Linked DNA regions of Homo sapiens. The protein of the gene in region 2 purifies or fractionates together with the protein of the main gene of each other region. This does not show direct contact. Each region holds a gene or a part of one and is shown on either strand. Other genes may lie near its edges.

Evidence for each region.
Region 1: the proteins of C6orf62 (region 2) and XRCC1 purify together in Homo sapiens (affinity purification with mass spectrometry; one large-scale study listed by BioGRID and IntAct). This does not show direct contact.
Region 3: the proteins of C6orf62 (region 2) and UBE4A purify together in Homo sapiens (affinity purification with mass spectrometry; one large-scale study listed by BioGRID and IntAct). This does not show direct contact.
Region 4: the proteins of C6orf62 (region 2) and TPP2 purify together in Homo sapiens (affinity purification with mass spectrometry; one large-scale study listed by BioGRID and IntAct). This does not show direct contact.

The regions. Positions count from the first base shown.
Region 1 is NC_000019.10:43,552,581-43,560,444, forward strand, and holds part of XRCC1 (DNA repair protein XRCC1), read right to left. Parts: intron 2,225-7,864; coding exon 2,066-2,224; intron 1,104-2,065; coding exon 1,029-1,103; intron 933-1,028; coding exon 821-932; intron 512-820; coding exon 402-511; intron 329-401; coding exon 217-328; intron 1-216. UniProt on the Homo sapiens protein: Scaffold protein involved in DNA single-strand break repair by mediating the assembly of DNA break repair protein complexes. Negatively regulates ADP-ribosyltransferase activity of PARP1 during base-excision repair in order to prevent excessive PARP1 activity.
Region 2 is NC_000006.12:24,701,559-24,708,319, forward strand, and holds the end of C6orf62 (uncharacterized protein C6orf62), read right to left. Parts: intron 4,705-6,761; coding exon 4,579-4,704; 3' UTR 3,303-4,578; downstream 1-3,302. Other genes in the region: ACOT13 (acyl-coenzyme A thioesterase 13), read left to right, coding at 1-57.
Region 3 is NC_000011.10:118,371,636-118,379,499, forward strand, and holds part of UBE4A (ubiquitin conjugation factor E4 A), read left to right. Parts: coding exon 1-31; intron 32-871; coding exon 872-1,031; coding exon of another isoform or gene 1,032-1,052; intron 1,053-1,450; coding exon 1,451-1,653; intron 1,654-1,858; coding exon 1,859-2,050; intron 2,051-3,260; coding exon 3,261-3,594; intron 3,595-4,938; coding exon 4,939-5,059; intron 5,060-7,810; coding exon 7,811-7,864.
Region 4 is NC_000013.11:102,639,408-102,647,271, reverse strand, and holds part of TPP2 (tripeptidyl-peptidase 2), read right to left. Parts: intron 7,003-7,864; coding exon 6,896-7,002; intron 4,051-6,895; coding exon 3,896-4,050; intron 2,716-3,895; coding exon 2,599-2,715; intron 2,364-2,598; coding exon 2,263-2,363; intron 979-2,262; coding exon 882-978; intron 66-881; coding exon 1-65. UniProt on the Homo sapiens protein: Cytosolic tripeptidyl-peptidase that releases N-terminal tripeptides from polypeptides and is a component of the proteolytic cascade acting downstream of the 26S proteasome in the ubiquitin-proteasome pathway.

The DNA.
Region 1 (7,864 bases), on a different chromosome or scaffold from region 2:
CCCAGCCCCTCCTCCCTCAGACCCAGGGGTTTAGGCCCTCAGCCCCTCCTCCCTCGGATTCAGGAATCCAGGCCCCCAGCCCCTCCTCCCTCAGACCCAGGGGTCCAGGCCCCCAGCCCTTCCTCCCTCAGATTCAGGACAGCAGGCTCCAGCCCCGCTTCCCCTAGGACACAGGAGCACAGGCCCCTGTGGAAACAAGGGATCTAGTTAGCTCACATTTAGGTCTCTTGGGAACAGATGGCGACAGCTGGGCTGGTGGTTTGCTGGGGGTCTTCTTTTCTTCTTGGTTCAAATCCAACTTCCTCTTCCCTTTGGGAGACTCCTGGGGCTGAGGGGATGGGGATGGATTGAGGCCTCCAGCTTCTCTCCTCCTCCACCCCACCAAAGTCTGATGATTTCACCTTGGAGGTGCTGCCTATGGCCCTGGAGACTGGAGAGGCTGAGGAGGCAGCACTAGAAGCCTGGAGGGTAGCAGCTGCATAGCTAGGTCCTGCTGGGTCGCTGGCTGTGACTATGAAGGGAGAAAGTGGATCCAGGATGAGAGGGCTGAGCCCCAAGACCCTTTCACTCCTATCTATGGGACACAGAATATTGTTGCCAAAACCCACCAGTGATCCAGGAGTCCCAGCCTCCAGACCTCTCAACCCTCAGGACACAAGAGGCCAGGCCCACCTTCCTCCACCCTGAGACCCAGGAGTCCAGGACTCCACTACCCTCCTCCCTCAGACCCAGGAATCTGAGCCCCAGCCCCCTCTACCCTCAGACCCACGAGTCTAGGTCTCAACCCTACTCACTCAGGACCCACGTTGTCCGAGCTCACCTGGGGATGTCTTGTTGATCCGGCTGAAGAAGAGAGCCCCCGGCCTCAGAGAGTTGGCGCTCTCATCCTCCTCCTTCACACGGAACTGGCCAAGCTTGGTCACTGTCACCTTCTAAGGTCCCGCAAGGTCAGTATTATAGGTGGGCTGCTGGCAGGTGGGGGTGGAGAGGCAGGGAGAAGGCCATGGGGAGTGACAGGTACAGCTTACCTGGGACGGGGCCTCTGCCTCATCTTTGTCTGGGGGGCTATGAAACCGTACAAAACTCAAGCCAAAGGGGGAGTCCTGGGAAAGGAGGGGTGGGAGTCAGGGAGTCTGGCCCAAGGACAGAGGCCAGGGCCCAAGACCCTTTTCACTCAGGGAAACCTCTTCCTGGCTCCTTCCCTCTCATGAACACCCATGTTGAAGGAGGGGCCCTGGCGATGGTGATGACAATTATAGGATTAAGCTGTTATGACTGAGCCCTAACTCTGAGTCTGGCTCCAAGCCCTTTTCACGCATTAGCTCTTTGGGCAATTGGCAGAGTCTACTAGGTGTCCCAGCGAATTCACTGCCCTATGCACAAACTCCTGCCTGTGGAATGGGAGGGAGTGCTGCGTGCCACTTCCAGAACACAGAAGTGTTCCAGGCTCTCTCCTCTGCCAGCTGGATGCAGAGCCAGAAAATAGGAGAAGTCTGGGTCCCTGCACGACCTCATAAGGAGAAGCCAGCTGACAGGCTAAACACTCCCCAGGACAGTTACCTGGGCAAGAAGCACACCTTTAGTGTGTGGCATCATCACATACTCCAGTCTCACTGTTACCACAGCTTTTAGCATCCCTTAACCTACAGCAACCCTGTAAGGATCAGGCAATGGAGGCCCAGAGAGCGTAAGTCACTTGCCCAAGATCACACAGCTAAAAAGTGGTATAGCCAGGACGTGAACTCAGTAATCAGACGCCAGATCTCCTGATGTTAACTACTAGGCCCACTCTACTAGGCCACCTCTCTAACAAGTCAGTTCCCCTCCTCCGATTCCCCTCTGAGATGCTGCAGTTCACCCTTCCTAGATTCCTCCGGGAGATGAAACTTCTCATTACAGGAAAGATCCCAAACCCATTTCAGGGAACGCAGGGACCCAGCCTCCCCATAATCCCATGGGACACCAGCTGTCTACTCCTCCCAGCCCTATGGGACTCAATATTGGCCCTTATTTCCCTCCTTGCCCAGGACCAAGGACTCTGCACCCTGGCTCCCACCCTAGGTACCTTGCTGTAGGGCTGGCTGCAAACAATTTTGACCCGGTCCCAGCGCTTCTCGGCGGCTGCCCGGACCAGCTTGTCAGGCCCAAACATGCGAACGCGGTTGGGGTTTGAGCCACTGCGGCTCTCGGAAGGGGACATGAAAGATGAGGTGACCAGAAGGACCTGGGTGGGAGAAGCCACAGTGCATGAGAACCAGGGCAGGTTGGCTTAGATGAGAGCTTCTAGGGGCTGGGGAAGAGGGCACAGGGCCCACACAGGGGACTGGGAGTCACTAGAATGTAGCTTGGGCCTAGATGTCTCCAGACCCTTTGTTTCTAGGCCTTGAGTCAGTCCTGCCCTGACACAGGCCCCAGAGGGATCTCTTTATCCTCCAGATGTGAGCGACCCTTATCTAAATTCTCCCATGGAGTCTTCCATATCTGGCAATACAGCGGGCTACATGTCCTAAGGAACTTTCCCGGCAGAGAATATTCAGTAAACTGGCACAATATTCAAACACCTTTTGGAAATGCACAGGTGAGTCAGCGGAAAGGCAAGGGGAATTACTAGAGGCTGGAAATGAGAAAACAGAATCCAGAGAGTCAGGCGAGCTGCACTAAGTATTAAGTGATTGTTTCTCAGCTCAAACCTACCCTCTACAACTCATCTCTGTGATCTGGGCCCGCACTTGGCAAACCACCTTTCTGCTTCCCTAGCTGATCGTGACCAGGCTCTGCCAATAGGGGGGGCAAGAGAGAGAGTTTGCAAGGCTGCAGGAGGGAGGAAGGACCAGCTTCTCGTGCATTGCAGATCCTGTGAGCATCACCCCCAGTTAAGCTTCTGCTGCTGCAGTGGTTCCTGCCTGCAGCAGCAGATGAATCCAGTTTGCAGTGTCCCAATACCTCCAGAAACAGCCTCATTCAGCCCCTCTCAGCAGCCGGTGGGGGAGGAAGCCCTCCTCAAACGATCTGAATTTCAGCTCCTGGAGCCCCACCTCCCAGTTTCCAAACATCTACGTTTCAATAATTCCTGCTCCTTTCTTTTGTTCCCCCAACCCTGGGAGTGGTAGCTACTCCCTGCGGTTGCTTCTCCCTCATATCTTAGTCTTCTAGTAACACCTAGTTACTGGTTCTTTCTATCAAATTATCTGTTAAAATAACTGGTGTGGTTTTAATCTCCGGGCAAGGACCCTGACTGACCCGGCAGCACTCATGTTGGTAGTTTGTCATGGTGCTGATCCCAGATAGCAAATAACTTGATTTTATTTATTATTATTATTTTTTTAAGAGACAGGGTCTTTCTCTGTCACCCAGGCTGGAGCACAGTGGTGCGATCATAGCTCACTGCAGCCTCGACCTCTGGGTCTCAAGTGATTCTCCCACCTTGGCCTCTGAGTAGCTGGGTCTAGAGATGCACGACACCACACCTGGCTAATTTTTTATTTTTTGTAGAGGCATGGTCTTGCTATGTTGCCCAGGCTGGTCCTGAACTCCTGGCCTCAAATGATCCTCTCACCTCAGCCTCCCAAAGCTATAGAAGTACAAGTGTAAGCCACCACACCCAGCTAGAACTTGATCTTTAAGGGTTATGCACGTGGTGGTGAAAGAGAACAAGAGAGAAAACCTAGGCTCCAAGCAAGGGAGAGTGGCATCTCAGAGATCCTCACCACACTGCATAGAACTGAGGACTCCCCAAAGGCAACGCCCACACTAGTTACATGAAGGGGAAATAAGCCTGTGGAAAGAGTCCCTGGGAGGCCTGTCTGTCTTGGCCTTAGCTTGGGGGGACACCAAAGAAGAGGTGAAAATTCTTCTCGGGAGAACTCCTCACAAGTCTGTTCTCTCAAGGAATTGAGAGTAGCAATTCATGTTAGCAATCTGCATTGAAAAACCCAAGCTGAGGCCAGGCGCGGTGGCTCACGCCTGTAATCCCAGCACTTTGGGAGGCCAAGGCAGGCGGATCATTTGAGGTTAGGAGTTCAATACCAGCCTGGCCAACATGGTAAAACCCCATCTCTACTAAAAATACAAAATTTAAGCCAGGCATGGTGGCAGACGCCTGTTGTCCCAGCTACTCGGGAGGCTGAGGCACGAGAATTGCTTGAACCCAGGAGGCGGAGGTTGCAGTGAGCTGAGATCGCACCATTGCACTTAAGCCTGGTGGACAAGAGGCCAGGAGTTCAAGACCAGCCTAGCCAACATGGTGAAACACCGTCTTTACTAAAAATACAAAAATTAGCTGGACATGGTGGTAGGCACCTATAATCCCAGCTACTCGAGAGGCTGAGGCACAAGAATCGCTTGAACCCAGGAGTTGGAGGTGATGGTGAGCCGAGATTGTGCCACTGCATTCCAGCCTGGGTGACGGAGCAAGACTCTGCCAAAAAACAAAAAACGAAACAAAAAGACTGGGCACAGTGGCTCACACCTGTAATCCCAGCACTTTGGGAGGCCAAAGCAGGCAAATCACGAGGTCAGGAGATCGAGACCATCCTGGCCAACATAGTGAAACCCCATCTCTACTAAAAATACAAAAAAATTAGCTGGGCATGGTGGCGCGTGCCTGTAGTCCCAGCTACTCGGGAGGCTGAGGCAGGAGAATCACTTGAACCCAGGAGGCGGAGGTTGCAGTGAGCCAAGATTGCGCCACTGCACTCCAGCCTGGCAATAGAGCGAGACTCCGTCTCAAAAAAAAAAAAAAAAAAAAAAAAGATGAATGCAGCCACTTTTGGTTGGGTATATTTTGTTACTGACTTAGTCTCTTTTCTAACTGACATGCTGTGAAATTATAAAATTGGACAATAAAGCCTTTTGCTGAGAAAAACAGAACATAACTATAGCTCTCTTTGTGCACAGCTGATTATGCAAAGGAAACAAGAAAGACAATTATACAGAAGGGAAGTTTTCTTCCTGACCTTGACTATACTTGTTTATAAAAGGCCTGATTTGGAGCTGACAGGGAAGCTGCATTTATCATCTGGTGACTAACATGGGAAAACCCTGTCCTACTAAATACAAAAAAAATAGCCATGCATGGTGGCACAGGCCTGTAATCCGAGCTACTTGGGAGGCTAAGATGGAGAATCGTTTGTACCTGGGAGGCGGAGGTTGCAGTGAACCGAGATTGCACCACTGCACTCCAGCCTGGGCAACAGGAGCAAAATTCCATCTCAAAAAAAAAAAAAAAAAAAAAAAAAAAGGAAGGAGGGAGGGAAGGAGGGGAGGGAGAATGGAAGGAAGGAAGGCTCCTGTGACTTTGGGTTTGTGCCTTTGATGTTTTTGAAGAGTAGAGGTCAGTGATTTTTGTCAGATATCACTTATTGTACAAAGTATCTGATGTTTCCTTGTGATTAATTTAGGTTGCACACTTTGGCCAGAATACCACAGAAGTGATGTGTAATATACAGTTTATTTTGTATATTGACTTCTCATCTTGTGACCTTCACTTACTAAACCTTGTAGTTTGTCTAGATCTCTTGGGATTTTCTGCATAGACAATCATGCCATCTGTGAAAAAAGATAGTTTTCTTTTTTCTTTTTCTCACCTTGTCACACTGACTAGTGCAAAGTTGGGCATGGTGGTGCAAGCCTGTAGTCCCAGCTACTTGAGGGGCTGTGGAAGGAGGATCACTTGAACCCGGGAGGACAAGGCTGCAGTGAGCTGAGATCGTGCCACTGCACTCCAGCCTGGGTGACAAAGTGAGACCTCGTTTCAAAAAAAAAAGAGTAGGCCAGGTACACACAGCAGCTCACATGTGTAATCCTAGCACTTTGGGAGGCCGCAGCAGGTGGATCACCTGACCTCAGGAGTTCAAGACCAGCCTGGGCAACACAGTGAAACCCTATTTCTACAAAAAATATTTAAAAATTAGCCGGGCATGATGGCTCCCACTAGCTACTTGGGGGGCTGAGGCGGGAGGATCACTTGAGCCCAGGAGGCAGAGGTTGCAGTGAGCTGAGATCATGCCACTGTACTCCAACCTGAGCAACAGAGTGAGACCCCCATCTCAAATAAATAAATAAATAAATAAATAAATACATATATACATAAATAAATAATATGGTTAAAAAAAGAGACAGTTTGGTATTGGCATAAAGAAAACTATACATATCAATGGAACAGAGAAGAGAGTACAGAAATAAACCCATACATATGGTTAATTAATTCTCAACAAGGAGTCAAAATGATTCAATGAGAAAAGGCAAGTCTTTTTTTTTTTTTCAAAGTATTTTCAGCCAGGTGCAGTGGCTCAGGTCTGTAATCCCAATACTTTGGGAGGCCAAGGTGGGAGGATCACTTTAAGCTCAGGAGTTCAAGACCAGCCAGGCAATGTAGTGAAACCCCATTTCTACAAAAAATTTTTTAAAAAATTAGCCGGGTATGGCGGCTCACACCTATAGTCCCAGCTACTCAGGAGGCTGAGGCTGGAGAATCCCTTGAGTCTGGGAAGCGGAGGTTGCAGTGAGCCAAGATCATGCCACTGCACTCCAGCCTGGCCAACAGAGTGAGACTCTGTCTTAAAATAAATAAAATAAATAAATAAGCATTGTCAACAAACATATAAAAAAGATACAGAAAAGGGCCGGGTGCGGTGGCTCACACCTGTAATCCCAGCACTTTGGGAGGCTAAGGTGGGCAGATCACAAGGTCAGGAGATCGAGACCATCCTGGCTAACACAGTGAAACCCTGTCTCTACTAAAAATACAAAAAATTAGCCGGGCATGGTGGCACGTGCCTGTAGTCCCAGCTACTCCGGAGGCTGAGGCAGAATGGCGTGAACCCGGGAGGTGGAGCTTGCAGTGAGCCGAGATCGCGCCACTGCACTCCAGCCTGGGCAACAGAGTGAGACTCCATCTCAAAAAAAAAAAAAAAAAAAAAAAAGATACAGAAAAAATAAACCTTATCCCCTGCTTCACACAATACACAAAAATTCACTTGAGATGAAACAGAGATCTAAATGTAAAATCTAAAAATAGAAAGCTTCTAGAAGAAAACATAGGAGACAGGCAGAATAACAGCTCCTCAAAGATGTTTACATCCTAATCCCTGAACCTGGAAATGTGGCAGAAGGCACTTTGCAGATGTGATGAACTTGAAGATGTTGAAATGGGGGAGATGCCCCTGGATTATCCGGGTAGGCCAAGTGTCATCATAAGGGTCTTTATAAGAAAGGAGGGCTGGGTGTGGTGGCTCATGCCTGTAATCCTAGCACTTTGGGAGGCTGGGGTGGGTGGATCACTTGAGCCCAGGAGTTTGAGACCAGCCTGGGCAACACAGTGAAACCCTCTCTCTATAAAAAATAACAAAAGCTAGCCAGGAGTGGTGGTGTGCACCTGTAGCCCTGGCTACTTGGGAGGCTGAGGTGGGAGAATCACTTGAACCTCAGAGGCAGAAGTTGCAGTGAGCTGAGAACACGCCACTGTACTCCAGCCTGGGCAACGGAAATGAAACCCTGTCTCAAAAAAAAATGAACAAAAGAAAAAGAAGGCCAGGCGCAGTGGCTCACGCCTGTAATCCCAGCACTTTGGGAGGCTGAGGCGGGCAGATGACGAGGTCAGGAGTTCGAGACCAGCCTGGCCAATATGGTGAAACCCCGTCTCTACTAAAAATACAAAAAAAAAAAGTTAGCCGGGCGTGGTGGTGGGCACCTGTAGTCCCAGCAACTCGGGAGGCTGAGGCAGAAGAATAGCTTGAACCCGGGAGGCAGAGGTTGCAAGGAGCTGAGATCGCGCCAGTGCACTCACTCCAGCCTGGGCGACAGAGCGAGACTCCGTCTCAAAAAAAAAAAAAGAAAAAGAAAAAAAGAAGGCAAGAGAGTCAGA
Region 2 (6,761 bases):
AAGGCCACAGGAAAATTAATAGCACAAGGAAGACACACAAAACACCTGGGAAACTGAGAGAACAGCAGAATGACCTAAAGAAACCCAACAATGAATATCAAGTATAGATTTGACTCAAACAATTGTAATTTTTGAAATAAACTAGCAAAACCAGAAGCAGCTAGAAATATTCTTGGAGGAAAAGGACCTGGATATCAAGTAGGGTAAAGGTGGGGGTGTCTTTTTTCACTTTAAGCATCTTGTTTTCTAATCATGTGTGATAATTGGGTGAAAAATTCTTAGCTCAAAGTGTTTTAAAAACAGGTAAAGCAAAGAAACTAGCAGGACCACTCTCAGTTAAGATTAAAACTAAAGTCCAGTGTTAAGCTAAAGGAGAAATAGAAATTAATGGTTCTAATTCTGTTTGGGCTGCTAGGAACAACAGAAATTTTTCATGGTTCTAGAAGCTGGAAAGTCCTGGGTCAAGGCCCAGCAGATCCTGTTAGGTGAGGGCCCGCTTCCTGGCTCATAGATGGTGCCTTCTCACTGTGTGGTGGAAGGGGCAAGTGAGCCCTCTGGGTTCTCGTTTTTGAAATGGAGTCTCGCTCTGTTGCCCAGGCTGGAGTACAGCAGCACGATCTCGGCTCACTGCAATCTCTGCCCCCTGGGTTCAAGTGATTCTCCTGCCTCAGCCTCCCAAGTAGCTGGGACTATAGGCATGTGCCATCACACCTAGCTAATTTTTGTAGTTTTTTGTAGAAACAGGGTTCACCATGTTGGCCAGGCTGGTCTCGAACTCGTGACCTCAGGTGATCCGCCTGCCTTGGCCCCCCAAAGTGCTGGGATTACAGGTGTGAGCCAATGTGCCCAGCCTGGGTTCTCTTTTGTAAGGGCACTTACTCCAATCTTGAGGGTTCTGCCCTCGTGATCTAATAACTTCCCAAAGACCCCCACCTGCTAATATCACCTTGGGGGTTGGGATTTTAACATACAAATTTAGGGGAAACACATGGAGACCACAGCAATGGCCAATCCTTAGCGAATCTTAGGTCCTTCCCAGATCTAAAATGCCAAGCTACACTTGCATTTCCTTTTTTTAAGATTATGAAACTTCAAAATATATGAACTACAGCCCATATTGAAAAATAAAATAGATTGAGCCATATGCCTAAAAAAGACCTCAAGAAAAGTTTGAGGCTAAGCATGTTAGTGTTACAGGAAATGGTCCAATAGAGGGGGAAGAAAAAAAGCATGCTACTAGCCCCTTTTCTTGTACCGAGAATAAAACCATGCAGATCTCAAACCTCCAAGTCTATAGTATTGAAAAGACCAAGTTCACTTCTCAGAAGTCTCCAAGTTCAGTTGACTGTGGCACTCTGAGACAGCTTCTGTCACTCAGGCTGGAGTGATACAATCACAGCTTCCCATAGCCTCAAAATCCCAGGCTCAAGACATTCTTCCACCTCAGTCTCCTGAGTAGCTGGAACTACAGGCGTGTGCCACCACGCCTAATTTTATTTTTGTAGAAACAAGGTCTCACTGTTGCCCAGCCTCGTCTCAAACTCCTAGGCTCAAGCAATCCTCCTGCCTTGGCCCCCCAAGTACTGGACTTACAGGTGTGAACCACTGCACCCAGCTGACTCTTACTTGATTTCTGTCAGGGAATCTTAATGAACATTTCATGACTAAAGACTAAAAAGGATGCAGCTTTAAGTAAATTTAAGTCAAGTTAACAGTTAAAGACAAATCCTTTCCCTACATTAGATCGCCTGCTGATCTGTCCACTGTGAAAGGGCAGAAGACTCCACAGTAGCAATAGCAGCAGTGAGCATACAGGAGTCCCAGATGTTTACTTCTAGTATTTCCCACTAAAAGGAAGCTGGGCTCCTTGGAGAAACAGCTGACTCCAGGGCTTGAGGCTGGGACAGAAAGGTTACAGTATCTTATGCATGAAAGGAGATGCTCAAAATAATAAAGGCATGCAAATTATGATTTGGAGGGAAAAAATATGAGGCCATAGTGTTTAGGTAGATAATAAATGGCAGAGATAGAACACTCTCTTACAACAAATGCTGTAAATGGACAAAGCATTAGATTTGGAAAATCACTATTTTGTAACCATCATAGTTAAAGACTGGTTTGGGTTTTAGTCTGGAAAGAATCGCCAAGGGAGCTCCTGATAAAGGAACAGGGTATTTGCACATTGCTTCCCAGAGATTGCTAGTAGTAAGTACCACACATAGGGCAAAACCAGGACACCTTGACCAGGCGCTCAAAAGTAACATCAATGAAGAGCAGATGGAGAGTATACTTGAGAAGGGCGTTAAGCATGAATAAACAATTCAAATGCAAAATGAGTAACAATTTACAAGAAAAATTGCCCTGTACTCCAAAAAACATAGAGGTCATGGAACACATAAAGGCTAAGGAACTGTTCCACATTAAAGACAACTGAGAACAACTAAATTCAATGATCCTGTACTCTAGAGGGGGGGATCTAAAACAAGCTACCAAGGATACTGGGACAACAAAACGAATATGGATGATAAAGAGTATCAACATTCCCTGAGTTTGGTAATTTTACTCTAGTTATATGAAATATTCTTGTACTTGGAACATATGCCGAAGTACTAAGGAAGGGGTAAGGAAGCACAAAGTGTGCAACAAACTCAAATAGCTCACAGGTATAAGTGTACAGAGAAAATGAAAAAAATGTGGCAAAATAATAAAAATGAGGGTAAAGATTACACAACAGCTTTCATATTACTCTGGTAACTTTTCTAAATTATTCCAAAATAAAAACGTAAACAATGGCTGCCAAAATGCCTAACTTGGTGAACATAAGTGTAATTCAATATGGTAAATTAATTCAACATGGTAAATTAAGAGCATAGGCCTTAAGAGCCAGCCAGCCTGGTTTTAAATCCTCCACTACTTATGATCTGAGCTTGAGCAAGTTACTTAACCTCTGCATCTATTTCCACCAAAGGTTGAGAGGTTAAGACAAGAGCTTAGAAGAGTACCTGGTTATAATAAACATTCAAAATGTTATTTCAAATAGATTCTAATTTTTAAATAAGAGGACACATGAAAGCATTTTGAAATTTAAGAATGGCCCTTTCCCATGAAGCAAGGCATAAGGCCAGGTTGCTAACTGTTGAAAGCTGACAGTATGTTCTTGATTCCTGTTCTTGTTGAAGTTACACACTCAATTGCCAGGTATTTTTCTTCTGAATTTACTATTTAGCCACAGACTATGAAATAATTCTCTAAGGTGACCAGTAACATCAGTGAAATGGAAAGAAAAAGTTAACACTTCAAACTTTGTGTATTCACCTGAATAGTCAGGGAACTTTCACCTATTTTATTTAGGTTTTCTTTTTCTTTTTTTCTTTTTTTTTCAAATTCCAACCAGAAGCTAAATACAATTGGAAACTGGTAAGCACTAGTTTTACTCCAAAGGAGTAGGATCATTCAGATTTACTCCAATAAAAGTATGCAACCCTTAAGCAAAGCTTTTCTTCATTTAAAAGGAGAAAAAAAAAAAAACCTATACAGTAGTCTTTCCTTATGTTCATTGCACAAAATGAGTTCTGCTTTTAGAACTTTGACACTCAATGGTTAATTTTACAATTTAAGATTCCAACTTTATAACCTTTTTTCTACTCCAAAACACCCTTGTAAAGTTTTTCTTTAGGATGGTGTAAAAACCAGCATTTCTGCACAATTCACTGGAATTTTTTTCTTTGTAATAAAAATCTCTTCTCTGTAAAACCAAAAACAAAACAAAACAAAACAAAACAAAACCAAAAGAAAAGTCCTCTACCTATCATGGTTTCTGCAGCTATGCATGTATTTCTGTTTTATAGCTGCTTTATAGCTACTTCAGACTCCAGATCTGCTTTAATGTGTATAACTGCATCCACACGCAGCAGAATACTCTTACAATAGCAACTTGGGGAAAGAGATCTGGAAAAAAAAAATACATGAGTACCAGGAAACAAACATGGCCCAGTAAAATATGAGGCAAAAATGCCTACAATGAGATGCGTTTTTCATTTAAGATTTCTTTCCCATGGTTGTATTTTCTTTTTTTAAACCAGTTCTGGTCATTAGAATGTATCTGACAGTGCTCTGGAACAACTGTGATTATAGCAAAGTTATTGTTTTTAAAAATGTTATTTATACCTGTTACATTCACTTCTCACCCTCTAAATACTGATGACAGATGTCAAAGAGGCAAAAACCAGCACAAATGGGAAGACCATAAAAATGAGTATCACCTTGTGCTTTCAGATACATTTAAGCATTTCAGTGTACAATAGTCCTTTCATTTCACATTTTTAGTAAGATACTGATGCAGTGCAGCAAATATGCAAAGCATCTTCTTTCACACAGTCCGTGCACGACATCTAATTTTTGTTTAAGTTCTGAGATAAAAATGATTTAAAAAAATCCAGGATGAACAAGTTTCAAAATGCATAGTGTTCTGTGCATGAGTCCATTTTCTTTAAACTCTGAAAGAATAAAGTGGTAAGAAAACAAGAAAAAAAACTGCTGCTGCATTCTCTGATCTTCTCCATTTTGCTGGTCAGTACTCTACTCTGGCATATAAGGACGGAGGTGATCCTCTATGGTGCCAACTGCCCAGTGGGTGAGCTGTTCCTGTGGCAGGTAGAGGCAGATGCTGCATAACTTGAAGATTGTAGCTTTGTTTTTTGGAGTCTGGAAGGGGAAAACATTTTAATATTTTTTAAAAATAAGACTTTAGCGTAACTGTCACATGAAGTCCATTTCCCACAATTTATTAAACATCTTAACATACAGAGTAAGGGACAAATTGTAGTCCCTATCCATATTCTAGACAGACAAAATCTTGCCATATAAGATAAAGGAAAAATTTATGCAGAATTAGAAGATAAAAAGTTAGGGAAGTAAACCAGAGACTACTTGCTAGAAGAAATTAAAGCTAAAGGCATTTCATGGGGACAGATTTTGAGAAGTTTGAAGTCATTTTTATATAGAGGAAGATAAAGCAGATGTGGTAAGAATAGAAGCTAGTGAGAGGATGAAGGAATAGGTAAAAATTTAAGGCTGGGTGTGGTGGCTCAGACCTGTAATCCCAGCACTTTGGGAGGCTGAGTCAGGAGGATTGCTTGAGCCCAAGAGTTCAAGACCATTCTGGGCAACATGACGAAAACCCATCTCTACAAAAAATATAAAAATTAGCTGGATGTGGTGGCACACGCCTGTAGTCCAGCCACTCGGGAAGCTGAGGTGGATAACCTGCGCCCAGGAGGTCAAGGCTGCGGTGAGCCATGATCCATATGCCAGTGTACTCCAGCGTGGTGACAGAGTTGAGACCTTGTCTCAAAAAATAAATAAAAGATTTAAGCATATCCTGGGGTAAGGGACTAGAAAAAAGCCAAAGTATTACCAGTTAAATCAAAACCCTTATTTTTAAAAAGTAGTTACCATTTGAACATCCAACTTAATTACAAAGTTCATCTTTTCTTCACTATCTAGCACCTCTAAAAGGCAAAATAAGGACTCTGACTTTGAAGATGTCTGAAGTAGCCTACAAATGTAAATAAACCTATACATATGTAATATACTTTACTTGTATTAGTTAATTTTAAATGTAACAACCTTACGTTAAATTTAACAACCTTAGGATTATCATTTGTTCAATTTCACAGAAGCAACATGCTCACAGCAGTTACCTGTCCAAGATCATACAGCCAGCAAGTGGCTGCATCTAAAAACTAAATTGCAATACTTGGATTGCTGCTTAACTGGGAAGTGGTTATTTGTTGTTGGCGGTGTTTTTTTTTTTTTTGAGATGGGGTCTCGCTGCATTACTCAGGCAGGAGTGTGTTGGTGCCATGGCTCACTGCAACTCTAAACTCCTGGGCTCAAGTGATTCTCCCCTGCCTCAGCCTCCAGAGTAGCTAGGACCACAGGAACACGCCACAATGTCCGGCTAATTTCTTTGATTTTTTGTAGAGATGTCGTCTCACTCTGTTGCCCAGGCTGGTCTTGGACTCAAGCAATCCTCCCCCATCGGCTTCCCAAAATGCTAGGATTACAAGTGTGAGACACTGTGCCCAAATGGAAGTGCTTATTTGAAATAAATGTGGATCTTTTAAATATATGTCCCTCATCCTTTTAGATTTAAAAAGTCAGCCGGTTGCGGTGGCTCACGCCTGTAATCCCAGCACTTTGGTAGGCCAAGGCAGGCAGATCATGAGGTCAGGAGATTGAGACCATCCTGGCTAACATGGTGAAACCCTGTCTCTACTAAAATACAAAAAAAAAAAAAAATTAGCTGGGCGTGGTGGCGGGCACCTGTAGTCCCAGCTACTCGGGAGGCTGAGGCAGGAGAATGGCGTGAACCCGGAAGGTGGAGCTTGCAGCGAACTGAGATTGCGCCACGGCACTCCAGCCTGGGCGACAGAGACTCCCTCTCAAGAAAAAAAAAAACGTCCAGGTCAGTGCTTCTGGAAACAAAGTGTGTTTCAAATCACCTGAGGGTTCTGTTTAAAGTGCAGACTCTGATTAGTAGAGCCTGAGAGTCTATATTTTTAACAAGTTCTCAAGTGATGTTCATCCATTGCCCACACATCTGGTAGACACGCTTTAGGGCAATAGTTCTCACTACTGTTCACTAGAATCATGACTTTTAAAAGCTTCGAAGGAGGTGGGTTTTTTCCCGTTTAAAAAAAAAAAAAAGGCTTGCCAGGTTGCTGTAACATGCAGCAAAATTTGGGAACCATTGTTCT
Region 3 (7,864 bases), on a different chromosome or scaffold from region 2:
TTACTCCTGCTTCCAGAGAGCCAAGGAAGAGGTAAAGGAATAATCCCCATTGAATACTGTATTGTCCTCTTGGGTATGACTTCAGCATGTGGGCCAGAGTTGGATCAGTCTTTATTTCAATTTATATATGTCATAGTATGTCTAGAAGTGAATATCAGGGACACTAAAGCTTTTATATCAATTTATATATGTCATAGTATGTTTAGAACACTGGATATCAGATGCACTAAAGCTTTAGTCTCCTTTCCGTATCTTGGGGTCCACCCTTCTCCCCAGTTAACCAATGCCTCCTATTCTCTCTAAAACCTCTTTAGAAATCACATCCTTAAAAAAATCTCATGAGGCTGGGCACAGTGGCTCACTCCTGTAATCCCAGCACTTTGGGAGGCCGATGCAGGCGGATCACATGAGGCCAGGAGTTCGAGACCAGCCTGGCCAACATGGCAAAACCTTTACTGAAAATACAAAAATTAGCCGGGCATGGTGGCACACATTTATAATCCCAGCTACTCAGGAGGCTGAGGCAGGAGAATCACTTGAACCTGGGAGGTGGAGGTTGCAGTGAGCTGAGATCACACCACTGCACTCCAGCCTGGGTGACAGAGCGAGACTCTGTCTCAAAAATCAGAAAAGGGCTCATGAATTCATTTCCACTGAGATGTAAATATTAGAGTAGGCTAAGCCGGATATTTCCAGGTTTGGAATTTTAAATAGGCAGATAGATGATTCCTTAAGCCAAGGAAGGAATCTCTAATTAATTTTCAAGCATCCACAGGAGACCAGTATGTCTCTTCTATTGTATTCACTATGTCTACTTTCGTTCCAGATTACAGAGTTAGACTATTCCCTCTTTTCTTCATGCTGTTTGCAGATTACCAAAGTTCCAGAGAACCTGCTACCCTTTGCAGTGCAGTGCAGAAACCTCACTGTGTCCAATACCCGAACAGTTCTTCTCACCCCAGAGATCTATGTTGACCAAAACATCCATGAGCAACTGGTAGATTTGATGTTAGAAGCCATCCAGGGAGCCCGTGAGTACATGAACAAGATCTGTAAGCTTCTACATTTTGATTTTCAGATTTAAAATTTCACTAATTGCATTAGAAAGTCTCAGAGCCATTATGGTTCTGGTATAAATTAAGGAGGAGGGCTCACATCTTGATCTTTGAGGTTGAGTACCAATAGAATAAAGCTGGGCATGGTAGCACACCCCTGTAGTCCCATCTACTCTGGAGGCTGAGGCAGAAGGATCCCTTGAGCCCAGGAGTTTGAGGCTGTAGTGTGCTATAATCACACCTGTGAATAGCCACTACACTCCAGGCTGAGCAAAAAAACAAGACCCCCAGCTCTAAAAAAAAAAAAAAAAGAATTATTGAAAGTAAAGAGCTAGTGTGTAAAGGCATATAAAAATTCTTGTGCCCTCCTTTCTCTCTCATTTGTCTTCTGTTAGATTTTGAAGATGTAACTGAGTTTCTGGAAGAGGTCATTGAAGCCTTGATATTGGATGAGGAAGTTAGAACATTTCCAGAAGTCATGATTCCAGTGTTTGATATTTTATTGGGCCGAATAAAAGATCTAGAGCTCTGTCAGATCCTTTTGTATGCATATCTGGATATTCTTCTCTATTTCACTAGGCAAAAAGATATGGCAAAGGTAGGTCTGAAAGATGATATGTATTCAGTTGAGCTAGATGTGTAATACATGATGCTTCCCTATCCTGAAGACACTATAATACTACCTATAAAATAAGAAAAAGATAGCTTGGTTGTTGTATCAACTTAACTGTTTTGAGGCCCTCCCACCCCATCACCTTATCTCACCATGAAGATGAATAAGCAGAACTTGTCTTCTCTTACAGGTTTTTGTAGAATACATTCAGCCCAAGGACCCTACCAATGGGCAAATGTACCAGAAGACCTTGCTGGGAGTAATTCTGAGTATCTCCTGCTTATTAAAGACTCCGGGTGTTGTAGAAAATCATGGCTACTTTTTGAATCCATCTCGTTCCAGCCCCCAGGAGATCAAAGTACAGGAGGCCAACATCCATCAGGTGGAACTGTTTACCAGGGTATCCCAGCCCCCTGATCTTAAAAGAGTTTTCTCAGAAAGCAGATACAGATAAGGCTGCTCAAGCCTCTCTGGGAAAGCAAATTGATCTAGTTGGCTTTTACATCACATAAATAAATTAAAACTGGGCATGGTAGCTCAAGCCTGTAATCCCGGCACTTTGGGAGGCCAAGGTGGGAGGATCGCTTGAGCCCAGGAGTTCAATTTGAAACCAGCCTAGGCAACACAGTGAGACCCCCATGTCTACAAAAAAATACAAAACTTAGGTGGGCATGGTGGCAAGCATCTGTAGTCCCACCTACTCGGGAGGCTGAGGTGGGAGGATCACTTGAGCCTGGGAGGTCAAGACTTCAGTAAGCCATGATTGCATCATCACGCTCCGGCCTGGATGACAGAAGAAGACTCTGTCTCAAAAAAAAAAAATCCCCTCTTTGTAGCATATGCTAAGAACAGCACGTGTGGGGTAAGAATGAGCTGCTGCTACTCATTACCCTTTGCTGTAGCACTGCTACAGCTACTTCTCCCCAACCCTCATTTTTCTCACTGAGCTATAACTTTAGCTCTGAAAATCTTTTGACTGAACTCTAGCTTATAAACCCAGTTTTTCTTCCTTTTCGTGTCTCCACCTATGCCCTCTCTTTGGGCTTCTTCACATAAATTATAGTAGAGGTCTGGCCAACATGAGGCATTGAATGATTGAATTGGGGATAGTTTAAGTCCCCTAATCATTAATCATTACAACTCTCTAAGGCAAGGCATGGCAAACTAGCAGTGGCCAAATCTGGCCTGCCACCTGTTTTTGTAAATAAAGGTTTATTGAACATAGCCATGCGCATTAGTATATGTATTGTTTCTGGTTTGAATTCATACTACAGTGATAGAGTTGAATAATTGCTACAGACACTGTATGGCAAGTAATGCCAGAAATCCTTATTGTCTAGCCCTTTGCAGAAAAAATTTACAGACCTGTGCTCTAATACCGTGTAATGCCATCTGCAGTTGGGCAGCTGATCAGAAAATCTCTTATAAGTGCCCAGAAATATATTTTAAAATCAAATTAGGGGATGAGGCACAGAGAGTGAGGGGAAAGATTAGGATTAGCATATTTTTGGAAACTGCCAGTTGCTAAGGTTTGGGAATAAAAACTATTAGGATTGTGAAACGTTCTGTGGTTGTGTTTTCTGGTTGAACAGTTCATGGCTCAGTTCCACGAAAAGATCTACCAGATGCTGAAGAACTTACTCCAGCTCTCTCCAGAAACCAAACACTGTATCTTGTCCTGGCTTGGAAACTGTTTGCATGCAAATGCAGGCCGCACCAAGATTTGGGCCAATCAGATGCCAGAAATCTTTTTCCAAATGTATGCCTCAGATGCTTTCTTTCTGAATCTGGGTGCTGCTCTCCTGAAGCTATGCCAGCCATTTTGCAAACCCAGATCCTCTCGGCTCCTCACCTTTAATCCCACATACTGTGCCCTCAAGGAGTTGAATGATGAAGAACGAAAAATTAAAAATGTACACATGAGAGGTAGGAGAGAACCAGGCTTCTCAAAACTGTGTGTGTGTGTGTGTGTAACGTGTAAAGCATTCACTCCCTTATCCTTTTTCACAGAGTTCCTTTCTCAAAAAAAGATGAGGCAGAAACGAGCTATTTCGATTTTTTTTTCTTTTTTTTTGAGATGGAGTCTTACTCTGTCACTCAGGCTGTAGTGCAGTGACGCTATCTTGGCTCACCGCAATCTCTGCCTCCCGTGTTCCAGCGATTCTCCTGCCTCAGCCTCCCGAGTAGCTGGGACTACAGGCACGCGCCACCACGCCCAGCTAATTTTGTGTATTTTTAATAGAGACGGAGTTTCACCATGTTGGCCAGGATAGTCTCGATCTCTTGACCTCATGATCCATCCGCCTCAGCCTCTCAAAGTGCTGGGATTACAGGCGTGAGCCACCACGCCCAGCCAGAATTTTTAAAAGACAGATGTTTGAGAGAAAAAAAAAAACACCTGGTAGCTTTTAAATGTTGTACTTTAGTGAGACCTTCTCTCTGGATTTGGCAGCCTTGCATATTCATTCATTCATAGTTTATAAAAATGAATAAAGCAGAGTCCTCATCCTTTTTGAACTCAGGCTCCAGAAGGCAGATATATTAACTGATAATTATAATATGGTATAGGGCTAAGCTATGGGAGCACAGAGGAGGGAGTAAATAATCAATTCTGCAGAAGTTGGAGGTCTTCATAGCTGAGTCTTGAGAGACAAGTTAGGTTTTACCAGGCAAAGAAGCAAGAGGGTCCCTTTATACAGAGAGAAAAGCAAGTGTAAAGGTACAAAGCTATGGAAAATCTTGACTAAGGAATGGTGAGAGGCTCAATGTGGCTAGGGCAAGGGGTAGATGGGGTTGAGTTGGGGAGGAAATGGATCAAGGGAGGAAGATAGGTGGGGCTGGATTGGAGAAAACAGTACAGAGAAATGAAGAGAAAATAAATGACTCACAGTCCTACCATTCAAAGTGAAATCACTCTTAATTTTGGTATATTTCATTCCAGTTTTATAATTCTAATTGTAAACATGATAACTGCTCAAAAGCAAATAATCAAATTCAGAAAAGCACAAAATAAATACAAATGATCTATTGCCTATCACTTGAAACAATCTATAGTAGTATTCCTTTTAATTTTTGGTGATTTCATGAAAAAGATTTAACTGTATTTCTGTAGACGGTGAGAAACCAAAAGATATATTCAGACAAAGAACTAATATGACAAGATATGTTTTTAAGAAGATATCACTGCTAACAGTATGGAAATTGAATGAGTGTAAGAGGAGACTGGAGACCAAGACATTTACCCTCTTTTTTTTTTTTAACTTCTTTGAGGTTTGGACAAAGAAACCTGTTTGATCCCAGCTGTGCAGGAGCCGAAGTTTCCACAGAACTACAACCTTGTAACAGAGAACCTTGCTCTGACAGAGTACACCTTGTACTTGGGATTTCACAGGTAACTCCTCTGATGTCATTAGGAAAAAACAGTTTAGTTGTGTTGATAACTAGAAGGTAGAAATTGAGTCTTTGGCCAGGCACAGTAGCTCACATCTTTAATCTCAGGATTTTGGGAGGCCAAGGCAGAAGGATTGCTTGAGGCCAGAAGTTTAAGACCACCAACCTGGGCAAGAAAGTGAGACCCCCATCTCTACCAAAAAAAAAAAATTAGCCAGGCATGGTGGCATATGCTTGTGGTCTTAGCTGCTTCAGAGGCTGAGGCAGGAGGATTGCTCTAGCCGAAGAGTTGGAGGCCACAGTGAGCTATGATTGTGCAACTGTACTCCATCCTGGGTGACAGAGTGATAACCTGTTTCTTAAAAAAAAAAGAGAGGAAGAGTCTTACAGATATAATCTGAGCTTATTCTAAAGGTTCACATTAGAATCTAATAGAAAAGGGGCATTGTATGAATTTACTTGTGTTTCATGAATCAGCTTTGTCCAGATTCCTTAAATTTGTTTTTAACTTTTATCGTTGTCGTTGTTGTTGAAATGGATTTTCGCTCTTGTCACCTTGGCTGGAGTACAGTGGCACATTCTCTGCTCACTGCAACCTCCGCCTCCTGGGTTCAAGCAATTCTTCTGCCTCATCCTCCCAAGTAGCTGGGATTACAGGCATGCACCACCATGCCCAGCTGATTTTGTATTTTTTTAGTAGAGATGGGGTTTCGCTGTGTTGGCCAGGCTGGTCTCGAACTCCTGACCTCAGGTGATCCACCACCTTGGCCTCCCAAAGTGCTGGGATTACAGGCATGAGCCACTGTGCCTGGCCTGTTTTTTAACTTTTGACCTGTTAAACTTTAAAAATTAAATCACTGTCTTCCTATTGTGATCTGGGAAAGTGGAATTGTTTTCATTTTATATTGCACTTTCTGCTCTTAAATTTTCATTACTGGCCGGGTGTGGTGGCTCATGCCTGTAATCCTTTGCACTTTGGGAGGCCGAGGCAGGCAGATCACTTGAGCCCAGGAGTTTGAGACCAGCCTGGGCAACATGGCAAAACCCCGTCTCTACAAAATATACAAAAATTAGCTGGGCATGGTGGCGTGTGCCTGTAGTGTCAGCTACTCACGAGGCTGAGGTGGGAGGATCTCTTGAGCCTGGGATGTTGAGACTGCAGTGAGCCGAGATTGCGCCACTGCACTCCAGCCTGGGCAACATAGTGAAACCCTGTCTCAAAAAAAAAAAAAAAAATTTCATTACTACTCCTGGTGATAAAAGATGAAGTTCAGCCGGGCGCAGTGGCTCATGCCTATAATCCCAGCACTTTGGGAGGCTGAGGCAGGCAGATCACAAGGTCAGGAGATCAAGACCGTCCTAGCTAACATGGTGAAACCCCGTCTCTACTAAAAATACAAAAAATTAGCCCAGCTTGGTGGTACGCGCCTGTAGTCCCAGCTACTCGGGAGGTTGAAGAAGGAGAATCGCTTGAACCTGGGAGGCGGAGGTTGCAGTGAGCCGAGATGGTGTCACTGCACTCCAGCCTAGGCGACAGGGCGAGAATCTGTCTCAAAAAAAAAAATTAATTAAAAAAAAGAAAAAGACCAAGTTCTACTCTACAGATAGAGACAAAAGTGGCAAATATTAAGGAAATGTTTATAAGGGAGCTAATGAGATCAATAGGACCACAAAAGACATTAGATAAAGAAGATTCTAGAAATGTTAAGATTTTAGAACTAGAATGTATGACTTCCAAAAACAGTTCTGGTTCTGGCTATTCATTATTCTGTAATTTGTTTTCCTCTGATTTAGCTGATTATGACAGGTATAAGTAGAGGAAGAAAACAGCAACTCAGTCATAGAAAGGGACACTAAGAATAGCAATTTTTAATGCCTTCTCAAGATACCTGAATTGATGCAGAGCATTTTTCAAAACTACTCAGTCAACACATTGCCGGAAGAAGGAAATTATGTCTTTAGAGAGAAATCTCCATCATAGACATTTTAAATAAGACAGTAGATAAAAGTTCAGCATGTGCTTAAGCTGCTCAGCTGCCTAGATTCAAACAAAAAATGAATATCATCTAGTTTCCCAATATTAGCTAGCTCAAGACATTATCTACAGGGCCAAAGGAAATGATTTTGGACTATTATCCATAACTTTGAATTATGTGTCTTCCTTTCAGTAGAGAATATTAGGCTGACCTTTTCTGAAGAATAATTTAATTTAATATTGAACAACAGAGAGCTGGAAGCTGCTCTTAGATTGCATCTCAGGTGGCTACTAGTTTATATGTGGTCATTACTAATCTAGAGTCCCTTTTCACCAGCTTAGTTTTCTACTAACCAAAGAAAGACTATCCATATAACCCCATCAAAGTATGATCATTGCATCAAAGTATGATCATTGCCCTTGTGTGATGTAAAACTATCCTGCTGGCCTTCTTGTACTTTGCCTAATAATTATTTTATGTAATAACAACCCATTCTACACCCTACTCAACCAAGCTGCCTTTCTTTGGATAGTGCATTTCAACTGAAGGCTGCTATTTGCAATTAGCTTCAATTATGTTGAATACTTGGCAGCATTTTCCCATTGCTGTGCACCCTGCCTGTGTCCTGTCAAAAACTTTTGTGAGTGCCTTCTGTGTCATTGCAACTGCAACTCCCTACTATCCTTAAAGAGAAGGCTAGATAAATAATTGAGGATTTGTTTTTTTGTGACTTTCTGTTTTCCCTGACCCAGTCTCTTCTGCTTTCTTGGGGGCAGGTTGCATGATCAGATGGTAAAAATCAACCAAAATCTGCATCGGCTGCAGGTTGC
Region 4 (7,864 bases), on a different chromosome or scaffold from region 2:
AATTCAGATTCATATAATAGTTCACAAAGTAGTGGGCAGCTTGGAGTTACTTCCCCACTCTTGGGCTATTAAAAAACAAAAAAGATTACTTGGCATGATTTGCATATAATTTCTGATACAAATTTTTAATATTGTTATTGACATGAGACTTTTTCATTTAAAAAACATTAAAAATACTTGTGGTAAAAAATTTTGAAAATATAGAACACACAGTATTTTAGCACTTATAAAAGTCACTGCTCTCTTACAAACTTTTAAAAATACACACCTGGCTATGTGTATTCATTAATAAAGCAACATATACATACTTCAGGACCTCTAATTACTTTATAAAACTGAAATGTGAAAATTCACTGAAACCAATCCATTTCCCTAACATTATAACCAAACTGATGTGTGTTTCAGTAACAGTTTTATTGAAATCTCATTGATCTTACAACAATTCTTTGGTCCAGCATTTACACTGGCCTCCATTACTTTTGCCACCCATCCCACCTGGGAGCTACTCTGACCTTTCCCTGTTCCAGTGCCTTCTTCGCAGAAAGCAATCAGGCCCAGCACCATCACCAGAAGGCAGATGGTATTTCTGAGCCATCTAATCACCCCTGGGTCAGATGGCACCAATGGACAGTGATCAGTGATTTTATAAACTAAGGCTTAAGGCTAGGTCACCACTCAATTACATTTTGTGACTTTACAACTGAATGGTATTTAATTACAAATTATAATTTCCTAAAGAGTAATTCCAAATTAACTGTTAATCACTTGATTCTGTTTTTTATATATACCATATACACTGTCCTTCCATTTTTGATTCTATGAATCATAAATAAAACACAAAAGTTCATCCTAAGGGTACACTTTACTAGGCAAACACTTACTTGATGAAAGTTATATGTCAGGACCATCTCATAAAGTTGACGGTTATTTGGCAAAACATCTCTTGATCCTAAAGGTTTTGTTTTTGCACTCACTGGGCTGTAATGAGGAAACTACATAACTGGTTTGATTCAAGAGTTCATTGAATGAGACAAATAAAACCATATGCAACAAAATCTGTAACATATTGCAAAAAGTGCAGATGAACCTTCCTGAGAGCTATCCTTTTCAGTATACTCTACAATATTTTAATCACTAACTTACATAATTATTTGATTGAATCATATCAATACATACAGTTTAGATTTTGCAATAAATATGACAAAGGCAATCTTTTCATGGCAAAAACATTTTCAAATGTGAACAAACAGCTCTCAATACAACCAAATCCTAACACTAGGGTGACAACTAAAAGTGTTGCAAGACAGGTTCTGATTTGTACCCCTTGTGCAAACTGTTGACAGTACTGTGTTGTGTGCAGCACAGACCTCCCCAGACCCCTGCTGCTCACCAGATGGCAGGGGCCACACTCAGCCCTCCTCCTGGCCGAGGGAATGTTATTTCATATTTTTAGTAGTCCTCTGAAGGAAGTTGCTAATGTACAGATTTTATAAAGGAGAAAACTGACACTGAAGAGTAAGTTTTAAATATAGTTTAAAATGTCAGTGAAACATAATCTACTCTAAATTTAGCTCCAATTTTTTAGATTTAGGAAGAAAACATCAGGATGATATAAGTTGGATATATCTTCAAAAGCTGGATGTTTTAATTTTTATTGATAATTCTAGGAAGCAGTATATCTTTAGACATCACCGTGTCACTGACTATTGTCCCTAATTGGTTATTTTAATACACTTAAGACTAGGCTTCATGCCGATGAGTTAAGGTCAGATTAAACAAAAGAAACCAGGTATCTTTATAACACAGTGAGTATGTGAACACAGGTCAAGGTGCCCTGCTTTTGTAAGGGGAGCTGCTGAGGCACAAACAGCAGGCTACAGTACTTAAGTTTCTACCATTTAATAAACAGTTTCTAATGGTATTGCAGTTTCTAAAAATGACTGCATTAGGATTCACAAAATAATATCAGAGAGAATGTTAACTTGCTATTTTACAGCAAGAAATAAAAAGGTTAATGTCCACTGATCCTAACTAGTCATGACTGGGATCGGCTATCCACCATCCTTGACTTTGCTGGTCAGGTGGGACAGTGAAGCTAGAAGCTGATACTGGGGCTGCCTTGCAGAGATCTGCTGGCAAGGATAAAATTCTCACCTCTAGCATGCAGGTGGATTAAAAAAAAAAAAGGCCCTTTTTTAAGAGTGTAAGAGATCCCCCCAATCTATATTCAATATCTGTAGTTCCTAAAACATTGAATGATACCGCAGTGTTTGGACCCAGTTCTTCAAAGTTATGCAGGGAGCCAGATCTTCGTATTTCAAGGAGGACTGAACATCAAAGCGGTTGATTCCTTCCGATGCATGCTACAAAGGATTTCTCAAATTACTTTCTCAAACTTTACTAAAAATAAGCAATATTTTGTACCTAAAATAAATGTGTCCAATATAAAGTTTATAAGTACCCACACACAAAGCCTACTGCTATCTTCAGAACCACAGGTAATTTCCCCTCATTAAAGTTTAAATCTAACCAATGAAGTTACTCTCCAGTAACACAAGTAACTGACATTAAAAATCATGAAAATGTTGTGGAACTTACAATGTTTAACTGAGGAGCAGTACACACTATCCCATGGAAAGAAATGGTATAATCAATGTTGACATCACTGAGACTTGCCCACCAACGAGCAATGCAAAATTCAATTGCTTTTCCACCCTGCAAATAAAAGTAAATAAAATATATCTCTTTTCTTATTTTTCTCAAATTACAGAATATAAATACTAGCTGTTTCAGAGCAATTCTGTTTTCAAACTTTTCCTGTTTGTAGCAAGAAAACTCAAAAATTTTAACAGCTATGCTAAGTAAGAGTTAGACAAATCATTTGCAGAGATATGGTGTATTTAAATATACATAGTTATTTACTCATAACCCTATGCTTCTTGTCATAAAAGATCCTAGGCAGCTTCTGAAAGCACATATAATAAAGCAAATGTGATTTTATTATTTCGAAGTGAAATAAAAAATTAGGACCAAAAGAAAAATAATCAAGTATAACGACACAATAAAGATACTTCAACTTTGTAAGGCATACTCAATAGGCACAATTGAGTTTGGGCTCACAGCTACCTGGCAACCAAAACAAAATGACATTATGGTCATTTACATCTTTCTCCCTATTAAAAAATAAAGATAAGGAAAAGGAAAAAAAAACACCTGCTCTTAGCACTGAGTTTTAAAGTAAGTTTTCTAGTAATCAGTGATTTAAAAGTTTAAAAAGATGAAGCAACACTGATCCATGGAAGAACACAAATGAAAGTAACCAGAAACCAAGAGATACTGGGAAAATCCCAGAACCAACTGAAAACACAAAGGAGCGCATTGAAGGAAGAACATCAGTACTTTCACCTTCTATGGAAGAAAGACTAGTCATCATTTCCAACACCACAGATAAGAATGCAGTCTGCCATCATCTGAGATAACTTAGACATGAAGCAGTAGCAGTTTTCCTATAATGCAAATTAGCCTCATAGCTTAACAACACAGCATTAGTAAAATAAGTTAAGTGACAAGCAAACAGGTCTTAAAGAAATTAATCTATAGTACAACAAAGAATAATCTAAATCAGGGTCCTAACTACAAGGCACGAGAATCTACCAGACTAGTATGTTTCTTTGACTATGCTATTCAAGAATTACAGCCATAATTACCTCCAACTTGATTTCAAGTACCCTGATTAGATTTTCTATTTTTCTACTTCATTTTTTTGGCATTAAAAAAATATATAATCCCAACATGCTAAATACAAACTATAAAATCAAATGCAAATACTTAGTCTTAGCCCATACCAAAAAGGCAAATAAATTGTGTTAGGATTATAAACTATAATTAAACTTACTAGGACAGGAAAAGCTTCAGTCAGTGTTCCTTTCTCTGGAAGAGAACAAAACTTATAGAATTCATGGCTTCGATATGCTCTTTGCTTCACAAGCTGGACTGCATGTAGAACAAACTTTGCTGACACCTCAGAAGAACACGAACACACTGTCACTTCTAAAATAAGAAAGAAAGAAGCAAAGCTTTAAACTTATAAGACCTAAAATTGACATAAAGTGGCTTTAATAATGCCCACTTAGGGATAATTCCCATGTAGGGACATAATAGGGATCAAAAATAAAATGTACACTCAAATCTGCATATTTCCATAAAAACAAAGAATCAACAAAATATTAATAAAGGTAGAAGACTAGAAGATTTTCTATGGGAACGAAAGAAACTGGTATTAAAATGAACCACCACCATGAGGCTGCAAACACCTGGAAACAGCAAGCTGTCCATAGATGCATACACAATTACATTAATCGGGTACCTTTTAAAATCCCTCCTTGTTTTAGCTGAAAACCAGTCAATTCCAGATAAAGTAAGGAAGGTTATATTTTTGGAAACCTCTATTTGTTATCATGCCTCAATTCCTCATTGATAACTTTTCCTAATCTCTCTTCTTGGTCTACTTGTGTACTGTGTGCGTCTACAAAGCCTGGCACGACTACTTATGCTTAACTTTACTCTGAGCCAGCGCTGGAGGTAAGCCAAGATCACCGCAATGCCAGATTGGCAGCTTTTCTAAAGAACACCCAAGCTAATTCAAGGGAACTGAAGCAAGGCGCAATGCCGTGGCTCATAAAACCAGGTGTGCAGAGAGCTCTCAGAACCTAGTCAGTTGCTAAGAATACAAAATCTAGTGTTATGACAATATTTCTAATTATTTGAAATAAAACTAAGACTGTTAAATTCTCTTAACTACTTGCATTCTAGATCATTTGATAATTTTTATTTAAAAAAACAAATTATTTTCAATACCAACCTAAACCAATCATAAATCAGTGCCATTTATCACTAAACAAGTACCCAATTCAGTATTAATTAACCATAGATTTGTATTCTTTAATTTACCAGTGCACATTTTACCAGAGCCTGGAGCTCTACAAGTCCCAGGGGCCCTATGAGAATGGGACCCCAGGAATGCTGAACACAGCAACTCTGACTCCACCCTCTAGAAGTACTGTCAAGTGTGAGCGTAATCCCAACGAAGACAAGCTATGTACCAAGTACTATAAAATCCCTAATCCTTACAACAGACTAACGACTATATTTACAGTTGAAACAGAAGTCCAGAAAATTTAGAAACCTGCCCCCAGGTAACCATTAGCGTATGGCAGAGTGTGGATCCAAACCCAGACTTCTCAATTTCCAAAGCCCGTGGCCTTGCCGCTACTCTGTGCTGCCTCCCTCTAATCCAGTTCTCTTAACTGCAATATCTTGGACTAGATGCTCTCAAGGCCTCTGGAAGCAGGGTCCTTGTCTAAGTAGCTCACCACCTTAGCCCACTGAAAAGGGCCTGGCACAGATGGTACAGAAAAATATGCTTAATGAATGAGTGTAGTACAACCCGATTATCCTCAGAAGCCTCTCACTGCTGCAATAGCTCCATTATAAACCAGTGTGCAAATTAACAGGCTATATTGGGTGCTGTTCAATTCACTGCTTTAGCTCTCAGCTTTTGCTATTATTTTGCCTTTACCTAATTACAAAAAACAAGAAAAGTCTGGTATTTCCTGTGATACCAGGTGACAAACAGATGGACAGCATACAGATAGATGACCAGAAAATGGTATGGGGAACCAAATACAACCAGTTATTCCCAAACCAAGTCATACATGTGTGATTTCAATATTTCATTTTCAATAAAGTCTCAGATGTAAATATATCTGTACTTTCATACAAGTACAAAAAACACACTCCTAAGTAAAATACAAGCCATTTTTACTAATGACACCTATCTACCTTATAGGGTTCTGACGGGACTAGACAAGATAATCTCTGTAAAGTGCTTAGCAGAGGGGCCAAATCCAAGAAGTATCAACAATGCTGGCTACTAATTTAAATTGGGTGACACTTTCTTGACTGCCCGTATTTGCTTCCTTCTATCAATGGGAGTGAGCTCTGACAACTGACATACCCTTCTATACTGACTGCTAAATTGTAAATTTAGGACACACAACTTGTGAAGGAAAATATGGTACACCCACAGCTCTTGTAAAAAAGAATGACATGAGCACTCTCACAGGACTATAACATGTTAATTCAAGAGCTTTGTGTTAGGCAATCATTTACTCTCAAAATTTCAGAGACACTGAAGTGAAAATCTTCTATAAACAGAGCTTCAAAGATTAAAGCTCTATTTCTAAAATTCTGAGAGTTTAACAGTTTGAGGTTTAAGCAACAGCTGCATTGTTTAAACTGATTTGTAGTATTTTAAAAATTAGGCCGGGCACAGTTGCTCATGCCTGTAATCCCAGCACTTTGGGAGGACGAGGCGAGTGTATCACGAGGTCAAGAGATCGAGACCATCCTAGCCAACATGGTGAAACCTCGTGTCTACTAAAAATACAAAAAATAGCCTGGCGTGGTAGCACACGCCTGCTAGTCCAAGCTACTCGGGAGGCTGAGGAAGGAGAATCGTTTGAACTGGGGAGGTGGAGGTTGCAGTGAGCCGAGATCATGCCACTGCACTCCAGCCTGGCGACAGAGTGAGACTCTGTCTCAAAAAAAAAAAAAAAAAAAAAAAAAAAATTATTACCAGGTAAGGCATTATTCTAAACTAAGCTCAAACCTTAAATATTAAAAACATCTTAAGATGGCTTAATTTCCTGTATGGGCCAATGCAAAATTGTACTAGATCTTAAAAACGTTTTGAACTTTACAGAAAGTCTAAGGTACCCAAATACATATATTAGTACCAGGGAAATACATGCTACAGATAAACGAACCTCATACAGCTATAGTCATTAGAACGTAAACAGAGATAAGCGGTCACACAGATTTTAATTTTACCTACCAGCCCATGTTGCACCCTCAGGAACCTCAATAAAATGCCTTCGAATTTGACCAGGTTTAAAGTGTACATCTGTAAAGGCTAGATCATAATGTGATGATTCATTTACTCTGAAAATTAATAAAAGTAATTAAATGTATATATTTATTATAAGACCACAGATACTCTAGATTTCATTGGATAAACGCAAAATAACAATTCATTGGAAATAAACACAGGGACTTAGAAGCTGGTTACAAAACAGTAGGTACGATATTGTTCAATTTTTGCAGTAGGTTAGCAGAGATAACCTCTGAATAGCAGAGTATAGATGATTCTACTTTTTGCCTATTTTATGATTTGTAAGATACATTCACACACACTATTAAAAAAGCATTCTCTTTTTTGTTAAAGGCATTCTACAACATTCACAGAATTTTCCAATTACCAGATTCCAAACTACAGTGAGTCCTAGATATTAAAATCAATGATAAAGTTTTATGTCACTGGTATTATAGCTATGAGACTTGTGTTAAATTAAGCTCCTCCTGTAGCTTCAAAACACTCCCATGATGTAAAACAGTAAAGAAAGGCAAACTACTTTCAAAGCACTTTTGTAAGAAATCAATGAAATAAAGTTCAAATGCATAACTACCCACCACGGAAACAAATTTTATGCTAGAGACAAATTCTTGTCAGTAGGACAAACGGTTAAATGAGTGCCTACTACATGAGGCCCTGTTATTAGGAGCTAGAAACGTAACAAAGAAGAAAATATGATTCTTTAACCTAGACAATCTAGCATGGAGAGAATCATCATCAGAGACATTTAACATAAGATGCTCCAGATAGACAAGAAGAGTTACGGAGCCTGGGAAGCTTCCTGAAGGAGATGGCGTGGCAGCTGACTCCTGAAGGTCTTACACATTACCTGGTCTAAATTACTACTGGACTTCGAGGGAATATACGGCTGAGAATTTAACTGTTGCACAA